3 separate regions of the Homo sapiens genome follow, and regions 1 and 2 are each linked to region 3. The links come from fine-mapping of genetic effects on gene expression. A gene starts in region 3. Each other region holds a variant in brackets. All regions are shown on one strand. Distances are from middle to middle. Region 1 holds the start of OR13J1 (olfactory receptor family 13 subfamily J member 1). Region 2 has its middle 10 kb from the start of OR2S2. Region 3 holds the start of HRCT1 (histidine rich carboxyl terminus 1).

Region 1 (4,241 bases), 36 kb before region 3:
ACAAAGTATGAATCCTGGGTGTGTTCTGTGTGGGTGTTGCCAAAAGAGATTCACATTTGAGTCAGTGGGCTGGGGAAGGCAGATCCACCCTAATCTGGTGGGCATGATCTAATCAGTTTCCAGTGAATATAAAGCAGGCAGAAAAACGTGAAAAGGAGAGACGGGCCTAGCCTCCGAGCCTACATCTTTCTCCCATGCTGGATGTTTCCGTCCCTTGAACAATGGACTCCAAGTTCTTCAGTCTGGGGACTCGGACTGGTTCTCCTTGCTCCTCAGCCTATTGTGGAACCTTGTGATCGTGTAAGTTAATACTTAATAAACTCCTCTATCCTATTAGTTCTGTCCCTCTAAGAGAACCCTGACTAATACAGGCCTCATTGCTGCCTCTACTGTCACCTACCAGGGAAGCTGGGCCATTCTCGTCATCTGTGGACTCCGTCTCAGCTCTGCTCAGTTTTGGGAAGAACTCTAGGCTCTGCCATTGTCACCCCTACATTGACATGTTAATATCTCTATTTAAGAAACTTGTGCAGGGCCTAGAGTTGGGCAAGGCTGGACCTTGGGAGAGAGTAGAATCTGACACTCCCTGCTCTTGGAGTAATGCTGAAAACACAGAGGGGCACAGCAAGAGGAGCAAGGTGGGGTGGCTTCCTGGTGGAGGTGGCATTTGAGCTGGGCCTGAAGGGTCAGGCAGTCAGTCCTTTTACATATGGAGAAGTGTGCTGGGGATAGGGGAGGGGGTGCTGCCTCGTGGGGAGAAACAAGGAGAGCACAGAGCTGGGTGGTGCAGGGCATGTGGGGGCCACAACTGGCTGGTGTGTGTGGCTGTGAGGAGGGAGATGGGGTGGGAGGGGAGGAAGGCTGGGGAGCCAGTCAGGCAGGGCCAGCTTGTGAGGGCCTCAAATGCCCCACTGAAAAGCTTCCACTTTGTTCTGAGAACAGTGGGGAGCCACCTAGGGATTTCAGTGAGAAGAGTGATGCAATCACATGTGCATTTCAAAAAGATGCCCCATGAAGGAGAGATTGGAGGGAGGAACAGGACTGAAGTCTTGGGACCAGCCAGGAGGCTGGTGTGAAGGCCAGGGTGATGCTGAGAGCAGAGGGTGATTTGGGGGCTGTTCTGTGGCAGGATCAGCGGGACTTGGTGCTGCCTTGCTGGGATGAAGATACCAGACCTGTAGCCCCAGCCCTGCCATGTCTTCACTGGCATTGGCATACGATGGCCTCAGCTACTAACCTGAGACCTGCGTCTGTACAGAGCCCCGCCCTCCCTCACCTGGAGGCCCGACTCCTGCCCCACACCTTCCTGGCGGCCTCCTTCACCTCCTTGTTCCTCAGGCTGTAGATGGTGGGGTTCAGCATGGTCGTGACCATGGCATAGAGGACTGTGAAGACCTCATCAGAGATGTGGGCTTCCTTACTCTTGGGCTTCAAGTACATGAAGATGATGGTGCCGTAGAAAAGCAGCACTACAGCCAGGTGTGCCAAGCAGGTGGAGAAGGCTTTGCAGCACCTGGCGGCCGAGGGCACCCTCAGGATGGTGGCCAGGATGAGCAAGTAGGACAGGCAGATGAATGCCAGGGGTACAGGCAGCAGCAGGATGGAGCCCGCCAGCAGGAAGTCTTCGCTGACCGACGTGTTGCCGCATGCCAGCTTCAGCACTGCCAGGATCTTGCAGGTGAAGTGACTGACCACGTGGTGGCCACAGAAGGGCAGCCTCATGGAGATGACCATCTCAGTCACCGACTTGAGGAGGCAGAGGACCCAGGCAGCTCCCATCAGCAGCACGCAGAGCCGGTGGCTCATGAGCACGTGGTACCTGAGTGGCTGGCAGATGGCCAGGTAGCGGTCATAGGCCGTGATGGCCAGTAGCAGGCACTCCGTGGAGCCCGTGGACAGGCTCAGACACATCTGGATGGCACAGACAGCAAAGGAGATGGTCTTCCGGGATGACAGGAGGTGGACCAGCATCAGAGGCACAAAGGTGGGCGTGTAGCAGATGTCCAGGGTAGAGAGGTTGCCCAGGAAGAAGTACAC[G/A]GGCGTGTGCAGGTGGATATCTAGCACGCTCACCGCCATGATGGCTGTGTTCCCCAGGAGGGTCACCAGGTACATGGCTGAGCACAGAGGGAAGAGCAGATGCTCCAGGGCTGGGTAGCCAGAAAATCCTTTCAGAAAGAACTCGGACACCTCTGTTCTGTTGAGCGGCTCCATGCTGCAGAGTTCTGAAGAGATGGTCCACAGCTGGGATGGAAGGAGAGAGGGTACAGGGTGCGGGGAAGCTCACAGAGCCCTTTCTGGGACGAGGTGGACTGTCAGGATCTTTTCCAGCACTGCCACACTCACTGTCTGTGACGTCGGGCAATCCCTTTATCCTCTCTAGGCCTCAGTTTATCCATGTGAAAAATGAGCATTGATTTAGATCAGCATTCCCTGAGAGAATGTTAATGAGAACATTAGTAAGCAATCTGAAAAATCAATTTGAGACAACATTGGATTAATAAAAAATAAAGCTCTTTACTGCAGGACTTCTCAGAGCGTTTACTACGCTAATGTGATCTATGACTCCTGCAAAGCAATGTAGAACATCTGTACCCCAAACTTATTTGATCATGGATCCCCTTTTACAGAAAACCCATTAACCTACTGCAGATAAGTGTTCTATGAGCATAGTCTGGGAAACAGTAGGCTAGATCAACAGTTCTCAAACTTTAACATGCACCAGAATCACCTGGAAAGTTTGTTAAAACAGATTGTTGGGCCCCAAACCCAGTTTCTGACTCGGTGCGTCTGGGCGATGCTTCTGCTGCTGATGTAGGTACCACACTTTGAGGAACTAGTGGGCTAGGTGGTCTCTGAGCAGGTGGAGATTCTCCTGGCTTTAAGGAAGCCTCTGAGCCATCGCATTTGCTATTCCTTCTGTCTGGAATGTCCTCGGCCTGCAGTGGTCTGACCTGTCTCTTCAGGCCTACTCTAGTATCCATGAACAAAGCATACACCGTGCTGTGTGTTGGAGGGCTGCTGACCTTGAAGCCTATCGCTGGGCATGTTCCCCTGTCCCCTGCCCAGGGCCTGTTTCATTAGCTACCCTGTGTGGATTGGACCTTCACAATCTGCCTTCCTGTGGGTTTCCCAGCTAAAATCTGATGGAGCTTTTGGCCCAGCTCCAAACCCCTATGTTCTGTGGGCCAGAGCGAGGGCTGCTTTGACTTCATGAACTCCTAGGGTATTAGCATGGAACATGACCAGAGGCCAACTTGTTGGATCTCCCATTGTATAGATGGGGATGCTGAGGTCACACAACAGGTCTCTGGTGAGGTGAAGCTAGAATCCAGCCCTCCCAACAGTGTGACCCCTATACCATGCTCAGAGCAGGTGTATGCTTCTATTAGGTTTCAAACAATGCTTGTTCTTTTACCATTCTAGATGGATATCAGTGCCCCAGGTGCTGCCACAATCCTCTCACCAGCAAAAGAGCATGAGTCACCTCTCCTTAGTGTTCCAGGGTATCTGGCACGGTGTCATTAATCCCATGGGACACGATGCCAAATCCTGGGCCTGGGTGGAGCACAGTTCCTCTCAGTGCCTTCCTTGCAGGAGACCATTTCCGTCTTTTATTCCACCCTCACTTACTCATCCCAGAACCTAGAAGTAACTGAGGACCTGCTACATGTCAGGTGGTGCCAGATGTGAGGGAGCACTGATGACAGGTGTGCTCCCAGGCTGCTGAGTGCAAACCCTTCCTAGGCAGAGAGGACCCCCAAGTCTTCCATACCCAGCCTCACCGTCCCCCCACTCTTCCGTACCCAGCCTCACCCACCCCTCCCACTCTCCCATACCCATCCTTGTCCTCCCCCACCCTCCCATACCCAGCCTCCCCCTCCCCTGACTCTTCCATACCCAGCCTCACCCACCCTTCCCACTCTCCCATACCCAGACTCACCCTCCCCCCACTCTCCCATACCCAGCCTCACCCACCCTTCCCACTCTCCCATACCCAGCCTCACCCTTCCCTCACTCTTCCATACCCAGCCTCACCCACCCTTCCCACTCTCCCACTTTTCCAAAAGTAACTATTGTTATTAGTTTTGTGTATATCTATCCAGATACTTTTCTGGCCATTTGCATATGTATATCTATACATGGAAATAGGTCTTGTGACTTTTTAGTATGCTTTTTTGTTGCAGCTTTATTGAAGGATGGTTGATGTACAACTATATTTAAATCATATAATTTGATTAGTT
Region 2 (4,241 bases), 62 kb after region 3:
TGTCCCCACAATCTATTCTCATAAACTGTTTTCAATTCTTATAATATGTCTGTAAATTATTTTAGATTTTCTCATAGGTCACAAGTAATATCATCTGTGAATAATGATGGTTGTTTTTCTTGCTTCAAAAATTTTAGACTTCTTGTCTCTTTTTCTTGCTTTGCTGCACAAGCTGGTTCCTTCAGTTCAATGCCGAATGAAAAGTGGCAATAGCAAACATCCTTACCTCATTCCCATCTCACAGAGAATACTTTCACTATTTTCACCATTTAGTATGATATTTGCCATAGATTTTCATAGATAACATTCAAAAGAATGTTCCCTTTTGTTCCTGGTTGGCTAAGAATATTTATTATGAGAAGGCATTGAATTATTGTTACCTGTTTTAAAAACCTCTAAACTTTGAAATAATTATAGATCCATAGAAAGTGGCAAAGATAGTACGAAGATGTCTCTTGTATCCTTCTGCTAGTTTCACCTGCTTGTTACACCTTACCTAAATACACAATATTCAATACGCAATAGCATACCAGGAAATTGACATTGGTGCAATGTGTATGTGTATAGTTCTATTTCATTTTATCACATGTGTGGATTCATACGACCACTAGCGCAATCAAGACATGGTACTATTCTATCACCACAAAGGTCTCCCCCATGCTATCCCTTTCTAGTCATCCCTACTCCCCTCCCTTCCCCATCTGTAACCCCTGGCAGCCACTAATTTGTTTTCTATCCCCACAATTTGGTCATTTGAGAATGTTATAGAAATGGAATCATATAGTTTGTAATCTTTTGATACTGACTTTTTCTCACTCAGTGTAATGCTGTGAGGTCTATTCATGTTGCTGCATGTATCAGTAGTTAATTTCTGTTTATTGCTGAGTAGTATTCTATGGCATGGATGTACCAAAGTTTGTTTATTCATTCACCCATTTTAGGACATTTTTGTTGTCCCAATTTTTGGTTATTGCAAATAAAGCTACTGTGAACAATTGTATAGTAGCTTTTTTTGTGCAGACATAAATGTTGATTTCCTGGGATAAATGCCAGAGTGTTATTTAGTTTAGTGTAATTGCTGAGTTATATGGTAAGCATATATTTAGTTTTTTAGGAACTGCCTGTTTTCCAGAGTAGGTGTGTCAATATACACCTCCCACTAATAACGTGTGAGAGATCTAGTTTCTCTGAATCCTTGCCAACTTCAGTGCTGTGAACATGTTTTATTCTACCTGTTTCAATAGGTGTGAAGTGATACCTTATGGTCTTAATTTGCGTTTGCATAAAAGTTAGTGATGTTGAACATCTTTTCATTGCTATTTGCCACTGTATATCCTGTTTGGACAAGATGTCTCTTCATGTATTTTGCCCATTTTCTAATTGAATTATTGTTATTGTTGTTTTATACTGTCAGATTTTGAAAGTTGTTTTGGTGACATCCAAATTTATCTTTTTTTCATGAATTTTGCTTTTTGTTGTTATGCCTAAGAACTCTCCACTATGCTGTATGTTTCAAGGTTTCTCTCCTATATTTTTTGCTAGAAGAGTTATAGTTTTACCCTTTAAATTTAAATCTGCGATCCATTGTGAGTTAATTTTTATTTGTTACCTGGGGTACAAGGTGACATTTCAATATCTGTATACAATGTACAATGATAAAACCAAGGTTTTTTTTTTTTTAGCATATCCATCACCTTGAACATTTAGCATTTCTTTGTGTTGGAAACATTCAAAATACCCTCTTTTGGTTATTTGAAAATATAGCATAAATTATTATTAACTACAGTTACCTTACAGGGCTAAAGAACACTAGAACTTATTCCTTCTCTCTAGCTATAATTTTGCATGCATTAGTCAAATTCTCCCTCCTCCACCACCCCCACTTCCCAGCCTCTAGTTATCACCACTCTATTTTCTACTTCTATGAGATCAACTTACTTCACTTCCACATATTAGTGAAAACATGTGGTATCCATCTTTCTGTGCCTGGCTTATTTCACTTAACATGTCCTCCAGGCTCATCCACGTTGCTGCAAATAACAGGTTTTATTCTTTTTTATGGCCAAATAGTATTCTATTTTGTATAAAAACCACATTTTTTTCGTTCATTCATCTCTTGATGGACACTTAGGTTGACTCCATATCTTTGCTATTGTCAATAGTGCTGCAATAAACACGGGCGTGCAGATAGCTCCTCAACATGCTGATTTCCTTTCCTTTGGATATATACCCAGTAGTGGGATTGCTGAATCACGTGGTAAGACTTTTTAGTTTTTTCAGGAACCTTCATACTCTTTTCCATAATAGCTATAGTAATTTATATTCTCAACAACAATGTGTGCATTCTCTTTTTTTCTGCATCCTTGCTAACATTTGTTATTTTTCTCTTTTGATAATAGTCATTTTAACTGGGGTGAGATGATGTCTCACTGCAATTTTGATTTGCATTTCCCTGATGATTACTGATATTGAGCATTTTTCATATACCCATTGGTCATTTGCATGTCTTCTTTTGAGAAATGTCTATTCAGAACATTTGCCAATTTTTAAATCATATTATAGTTGACCTTTGAACA[G/A]TGTGAGGGTTAGTGACTTCAACCCCCAGCACAATTGAAAATCCATATACAACTTTTGACTCCTCAAAAACTTAATCGCCTACTCTTGACTGGAAGCTTTACCAATGTCATAAGCATTCAGTTAACACTTATTTTGTATGTTATATGTATTATATACTTTATTCTTACAATAAATTAAGTTAGAAAAAGAAAATGCTATTAAGAGAATCATAAGGAAGAGAAAATATATTTGTTATTCATTAAGTAGAAGTGGATCATCATAAAGGTTTTCATCCTTATTGTCTTCATGTTGAGTAGGCGGAGGGGGAAGTAGAGAAGGGAGGGTTGGTCTTGCTGTCTCAGAGGTGGCAGAGGTAGAAGAAAGATTATGTATAGGTGAACCTGTACAGTTCAAACCGCTGTTCAAGGGCCAACTGTATTTTTGTTGTTGTTGGTTTTGGCCACTGAGTTATTTGTATATTCTGGATATTAATCCCTTCTCAGATAAATATTTTCTCCCATTCTGCAGATTGTCTCTTCACTGTGTTGATCAGTTCCTTTGCTGTGCAGAAGATTTTTAGTTTGATATAATCCTCTTTGTTTATTTTTGGTTTTGTTGCCTGTGCATTTGGTTTTGTTGCCTCTGCATTCTTCATAAAAATCTTTGCCCAGACCAGTGTCCAAAAGTGTTTTTCCTATGTTTTTTTCTAGTAGTTTTATAGCTTTGGGTCTTTAATTCATCTTTAGTTTATTTTTGTATACGGTAAGAGATGGGTATCTTAGTTTCATTATTCTGCATATAGGTATCCAGTTTTACCAACATCATTTTTTGAAGAGACCGTCCTTTCCCCAATGAATGTTTCTGGCACCTCTGTCAAAAATCAGTTGGCTGTAAATATGTGAATTTATTTCTGAGTTCTGTATTCTGTTTCATTGTGTTTTTTTTTGTTTGTTTTTTTTTTTAGACAGAATCTTGCTCTGTCACCAGGCTGGAGTGCAGTGGTGCAATCTCGACTCACTGCAACCTGCGCCTCCCAGATTCAAGCAATTCTCCTGCCTTAGCCTCCCAAGTAGCTGTGACTACAGGCATGTACCACCACGCTCAGCTAATTTTTGTATTTTTAGTAGAGATGGGGTTTCACCATGTTGGCCAGGATGGTCTCCATCTCTTGACCTTGTGATCCACCCACCTTGGCCTCCCAAGGTGCTGGGATTACAGGCGTGAGCCACCGCACCTGGCCCCCCCCCCTTTTTTTTTTAATGAGATGGAGTCTCACTGTGTCACCCAGCCGGGAGTGCAATGGAGCGATCTCGGCTCACTGCAACCTCCGCCTCCTGGATTGAAGCGATTCTCCTACCTTAGCCTCCTGAGAAGCTGGGATTACAGGCACCCACCACCATACCTGGCTAATTATTGTATTTTTAGTAGAGACAGGTTTTTATCATATTGGCCAGTCCGGTCTCAAACTCCTGACCTCAGGTGATCCTCCCACCTCGGCCTCCCAAAGTGCTGGGATTATAGGCGTGAGCCACCCCACCCAGCCAGTTTCATTGTTCTATATATTTCTTTTTATGCCAGTGCCATGCTATTTTGGCTACAATAGCTGCAGTAGGAGGTCACATAGTATGATATCTCCAACTTTGTTTTTTTGTTCAGGATTACTTTGGCTACTCAGGGCCTTTTGT
Region 3 (4,241 bases):
GTGCCCAAAGCATCTAAACAAATGTTCACTTTGGGATCCTACTACCCAGATGGAGAGTGAACCTGCACCTAAGGAAACAGATGTCGTGTGTATGTGTATGTGTGAGGGGGCACTCCCAACCCCTGCGCCCTCCAGGTTTATTCACATCTCCACCTCATCTTCCCGCTGTCTCTGTGGAAGGCCCTGCTGATCTCAGGCTGTCACTCTGGACGGCTCCCTCACTGCAGGGATGGTGCTCTGTTGAGTACCTGCTGTATAGATTAGCGCACGAGGCTGGGAGAACTTAGGCAAGTGTTTCCCTTCTCTGGCTTCAGTTTCTCCATCTGTCAGTGAAGGCTGAGTCTGGGTGATTCCAAGGGGCCGTTTGAGCTGACTGAAGTTCTTCAAGTTCATAGTTGTAAGGTCCTGCCCCGCCGCCAGCGGCTGGTGTGGGGTGGGAGTCTTCCTGGAGAAGTTCTGAGGACGAAAATCCCCTGTTTGCCTTCCTCCTCCTCCTCCTCACAACAGACTTCCCTCCTTAACTTCCCTAGGGAAGGCAGCCGGGCTCCCAGGGCCCCAGGAGTCTGCAGGAGGAGTTCTTACTCCAGCATCATTAAAAGTTCAAGTAGCTCCCCCAAGGGCCAAAGAAGTGCCAGGATTCATTAGACCTGCTGCCCCCTGAGCCCAGTTTGGTTGAAGGGAATGTTTAGCCTTTTCATCTGGTGAGGGTTTTCATTAAGGGTTTGAGGCCTCCCTAAGAGAACTCACCTCAGACTGAGGTCAGAGGGGGAAGGGTCCCTGGAGGTCACCTCTTGCTCCGGGAGTTCTGCAGAGGAGACAGGCTGGATCAGGGCAAGGGGTTTGCCCAACATCACAGGGTGGAGGTGCTGCCAGAACTCAGAGAACCAGCCTTGCGGTGTCTGCAGACATTCCTCCAGGCGGTAGGGAGATGAGCCTGGAGGGAGGGGCTGGGGACTCAGCCTGGAGGGACCCTGCAGAGCCAGACACAGAGCTGGGGCTTTGGGGAGCCCCACTGCATGTGAGGAAGAGCTTGGAGAACAGCCCAGCATGCCCACAGCAGAAAGGGTTGCCCAGAGAGAGAGTGAGCACCTGTTGCTGAGGTCTGTCAGCAGGATGGGACGGTGCCTCCCAGGAGGAACAGAGGGGATTTGGGCCTGGCGGGTGGGCTTGGAGGGACAGTCAGTACTGCTCAGATCCTGCCGCTCTGTAAATGCTCCACTAGGCAGGAATGGCACTCATCACTGCTGGGCAGGGAGGGTGTGACAGAGCAAGGAGCATGCCATTTATGGCCAGTTGAGACTGTTGAACTGGGAACCAGGAGGCTGGGCTGTGCCTGCCCTCTCTGAGCTCAGTGGCCTCCTTCTTGCCTCCCAGCAAGCTTGGGAGGACACCCAGACCCTCCTGCCTCCCAGAACAGGCCGGATGGAGGACCTCCCTGGATGGCAAAATCTGCCTGTGGTGCCTCCCTGAGCTTCTCAAGCTCATTGAGCTCGGGATGGCTCATCTGACAGAGCCTGACTCAGCCCCGGAGGGCTCTGCAGGCTGCAGGACAGGGAATCACAGACTCTCAGATGTCAGTGTCTCCTGAGCCATGGAGTCCATTGCAGTAATATCAGTTGCAAACATGACGGGAGCTGGTGTTGCTGCTTTACGCATCTCAACTCCTTTAGTCCTCGGAACACCCTACTGAGGAAGGAACCGTTATCAGCCATTTTACAGAAGAGGAAACAGGACAGAGAGGTTAAGTAACTTGTGCACAATCTCAGAGCAAGTGAGTGGCGTGGCTCCAAAGCCCGTGTTGTTCATCTCTGTTCTACACAGTCTCTACGAGAGGAGACTGAAGTGCGGAGAGGGAAGGTCACTGAGCCAGGCAGCAGGAGGGTTTCTTTCCTCTAGACTCAGGGCTCCTCCCTCAACCAGATCCAGCCTGACAGCTCCTCTGTCTCCACCTGGCCTCCCTGCCAGGCCTCCTCAGAGTTAACAGCGGCCTGGCCTCACCCTTGGCCAGCAGTTGCAAGTCCAAACAGGCTTCGCCCACATTCCCTGGCTGCTCTCCAGCCCGCAGCAGAGACAACAAAGTTCAGTGACTGAGAGGGCTGAGCGGAGGCTGCTGAAGGGGAGAAAGGAGTGAGGAGCTGCTGGGCAGAGAGGGACTGTCCGGCTCCCAGATGCTGGGCCTCCTGGGGAGCACAGCCCTCGTGGGATGGATCACAGGTGCTGCTGTGGCGGTCCTGCTGCTGCTGCTGCTGCTGGCCACCTGCCTTTTCCACGGACGGCAGGACTGTGACGTGGAGAGGAACCGTACAGCTGCAGGGGGAAACCGAGTCCGCCGGGCCCAGCCTTGGCCCTTCCGGCGGCGGGGCCACCTGGGAATCTTTCACCATCACCGTCATCCTGGCCACGTATCTCATGTGCCGAATGTGGGCCTCCACCACCACCACCACCCCCGCCACACCCCTCACCACCTCCACCACCACCACCACCCCCACCGCCACCATCCCCGCCACGCTCGCTGAGGCTGCTGTCGCCGGTGCCTGTGGACAGCAGCTGCCCCTGCCCTCCCATCTGTTCCCAGGACAAGTGGACCCCATGTTTCCATGTGGAAGGATGCATCTCTGGGGTGAACGAGGGGAACAATAGACTGGGGCTTGCTCCAGCTGCATTTGCATGGCATGCCCCAGTGTACTATGGCAGCAGAGAATGGAGGAACACTGGGTCTGCAGTGCTGAAGGGTTTGGGGAGTGGAGAGCAAGGGTGCTCTTTCGGGGCTGGACAGCCCGTCTTGTGACAGTGACTCCCAGTGAGCCCCAGAAATGACAAGCGTGTCTTGGCAGAGCCAGCACACAAGTGGATGTGAAGTGCCCGTCTTGACCTCCTCATCAGGCTGCTGCAGGCCTCTGGCGGGCAGGGCACTGGGAGAGGCCCTGAGAATGTCCTTTTGGTTTGGAGAAGGCAGTGTGAGGCTGCACAGTCAATTCATCGGTGCCTTAGTCCAAGAAAATAAAAACCACTAAGAAGCTTTTGTGAAGAGGCTCTTGATTGCAGCATAGTGGGAGGGAGGGAGCTGCCTGGCCTGTGTCCTCATTGCCCTGGGACCTCCCTCTCTGATGGGAAGCGTGTGGCTGGAGCAGGCGGCTTCTGTCTGGTTCTTAGGGGCTGGTTGTGGAGTGGGAAGAATTGGGTGGGCTCTGTCTGAGCTCTGAGGGAGGATTCAGGGTTTGCACAAAACCCTGCCCACAGCAGGTCCTGTGTGCACCAGCAGGGCTCTGGCCTTCCGCGGGACAGTCCTCGGGGAGAGGAAGGTTGGAGCCGCTGCGAGCCTGGCTCCCCAGGGCTCTGCCCCTGTACTTTTTTCAGCCCATGTCCAGGGCAGACTGAGCTCTGAAACTCGAGGAAGCCCCATCCACAGGCTGCCTTGAATCCAGTTTCCTTGGTAATTGGATCAGGGTTTCTTCTCCAAGCCTTGCGTTTTCAGCCATCCTGCCCCAGCTGGTGCCTGTGTGTGGTGGGAGGGCTGGGAGGCAGCGAGTGGAGTTCTTTAAAGTGGAGGCTGTGGTGCTGGGGTGCAGGGTGTTGGATGGCCTTGGGAGAATGCTGGGGTCTCACTTTCCTCTTCTCTGCAATGGGGTGGATAACAGAGATGCCCACGTGCCGAAGCCTGGAGGCTCGTTGGAATATGCTCTGTGAACAGCTAGTGGGATCCACAGCGAGGAAGGAAGCCTGGCTCTGAGGCCTTCAGCCTGTGCCTGTGAGCTGAGGTGGGAATTGGGGGAAGACAAGGACTGGGGGCCAGGAGAGGCAGTGGGGAGGGGCTGGAGAGCAGGCCAGAGACTCAGGGACCTGGTGACTCACTGGAATAGAATGTCCTCTTTCCTTTCTATTTCCCAGTGGATTCTCTGTGAGGGCTGCAGGAGGAGGGAGTGAGAGAGAGAGGGAGGCAAATTCACACTGATTTCTCCCACCTGAGGTTTCTGGGTTGGGAAAGTTGACCCTAGGCTGCCGTGCAGTGTCGATTTTCTCTGCAGTGTCCTTCAAATCCACCCCCTTCTCCATTCCCATGCCCTGCCTAGCCCAGCCCCCTCCATCCCCCTCCTGGATTCCTGCCAGCCTGCTCCCTGCAGCCCTGCCCCTTTCCCAGGCATCTCCAGGCTGATTTCACAGATGAATCAAAGATGGGGAGGAGGTTCCCCGAAAGCAGGAAACGGAAAAGGAAGCCTATGCAGGGCAGGAGAGAACCCGCT

The links. PIP is the estimated chance that this variant, and not a neighbour inherited with it, causes the effect.
Region 1: its variant is the best candidate, but not a certain one, in a credible set for the expression of HRCT1 in cerebellar hemisphere (GTEx, PIP 0.73).
Region 2: its variant is the best candidate, but not a certain one, in a credible set for the expression of HRCT1 in lung (TOPMed, PIP 0.86).

Annotation. Positions count from the first base shown.
Region 1 is chr9:35,868,191-35,872,431 of GRCh38, forward strand. It overlaps OR13J1 (olfactory receptor family 13 subfamily J member 1), which reads right to left and starts at 2,211. Exons shown (of 1, transcript NM_001004487.1): 1 at 1,273-2,211. The coding sequence starts at 2,211. The coding sequence ends at 1,273. The variant G/A (reference allele first, on the strand shown) is at 2,038.
Region 2 is chr9:35,966,090-35,970,330 of GRCh38, forward strand. No RefSeq gene overlaps it. Among named protein-coding and RNA genes, the nearest start is that of OR2S2, 10 kb to the left of the region's middle. The variant G/A (reference allele first, on the strand shown) is at 2,577.
Region 3 is chr9:35,904,120-35,908,360 of GRCh38, forward strand. It overlaps HRCT1 (histidine rich carboxyl terminus 1), which reads left to right and starts at 2,083. Exons shown (of 1, transcript NM_001039792.2): 1 at 2,083-3,017. The coding sequence starts at 2,169. The coding sequence ends at 2,516. It overlaps LOC124902149 (a long non-coding RNA gene), which reads right to left and starts at 1,551. Exons shown (of 3, transcript XR_007061471.1): 1 at 249-1,551. RefSeq lists an enhancer at 749-1,630.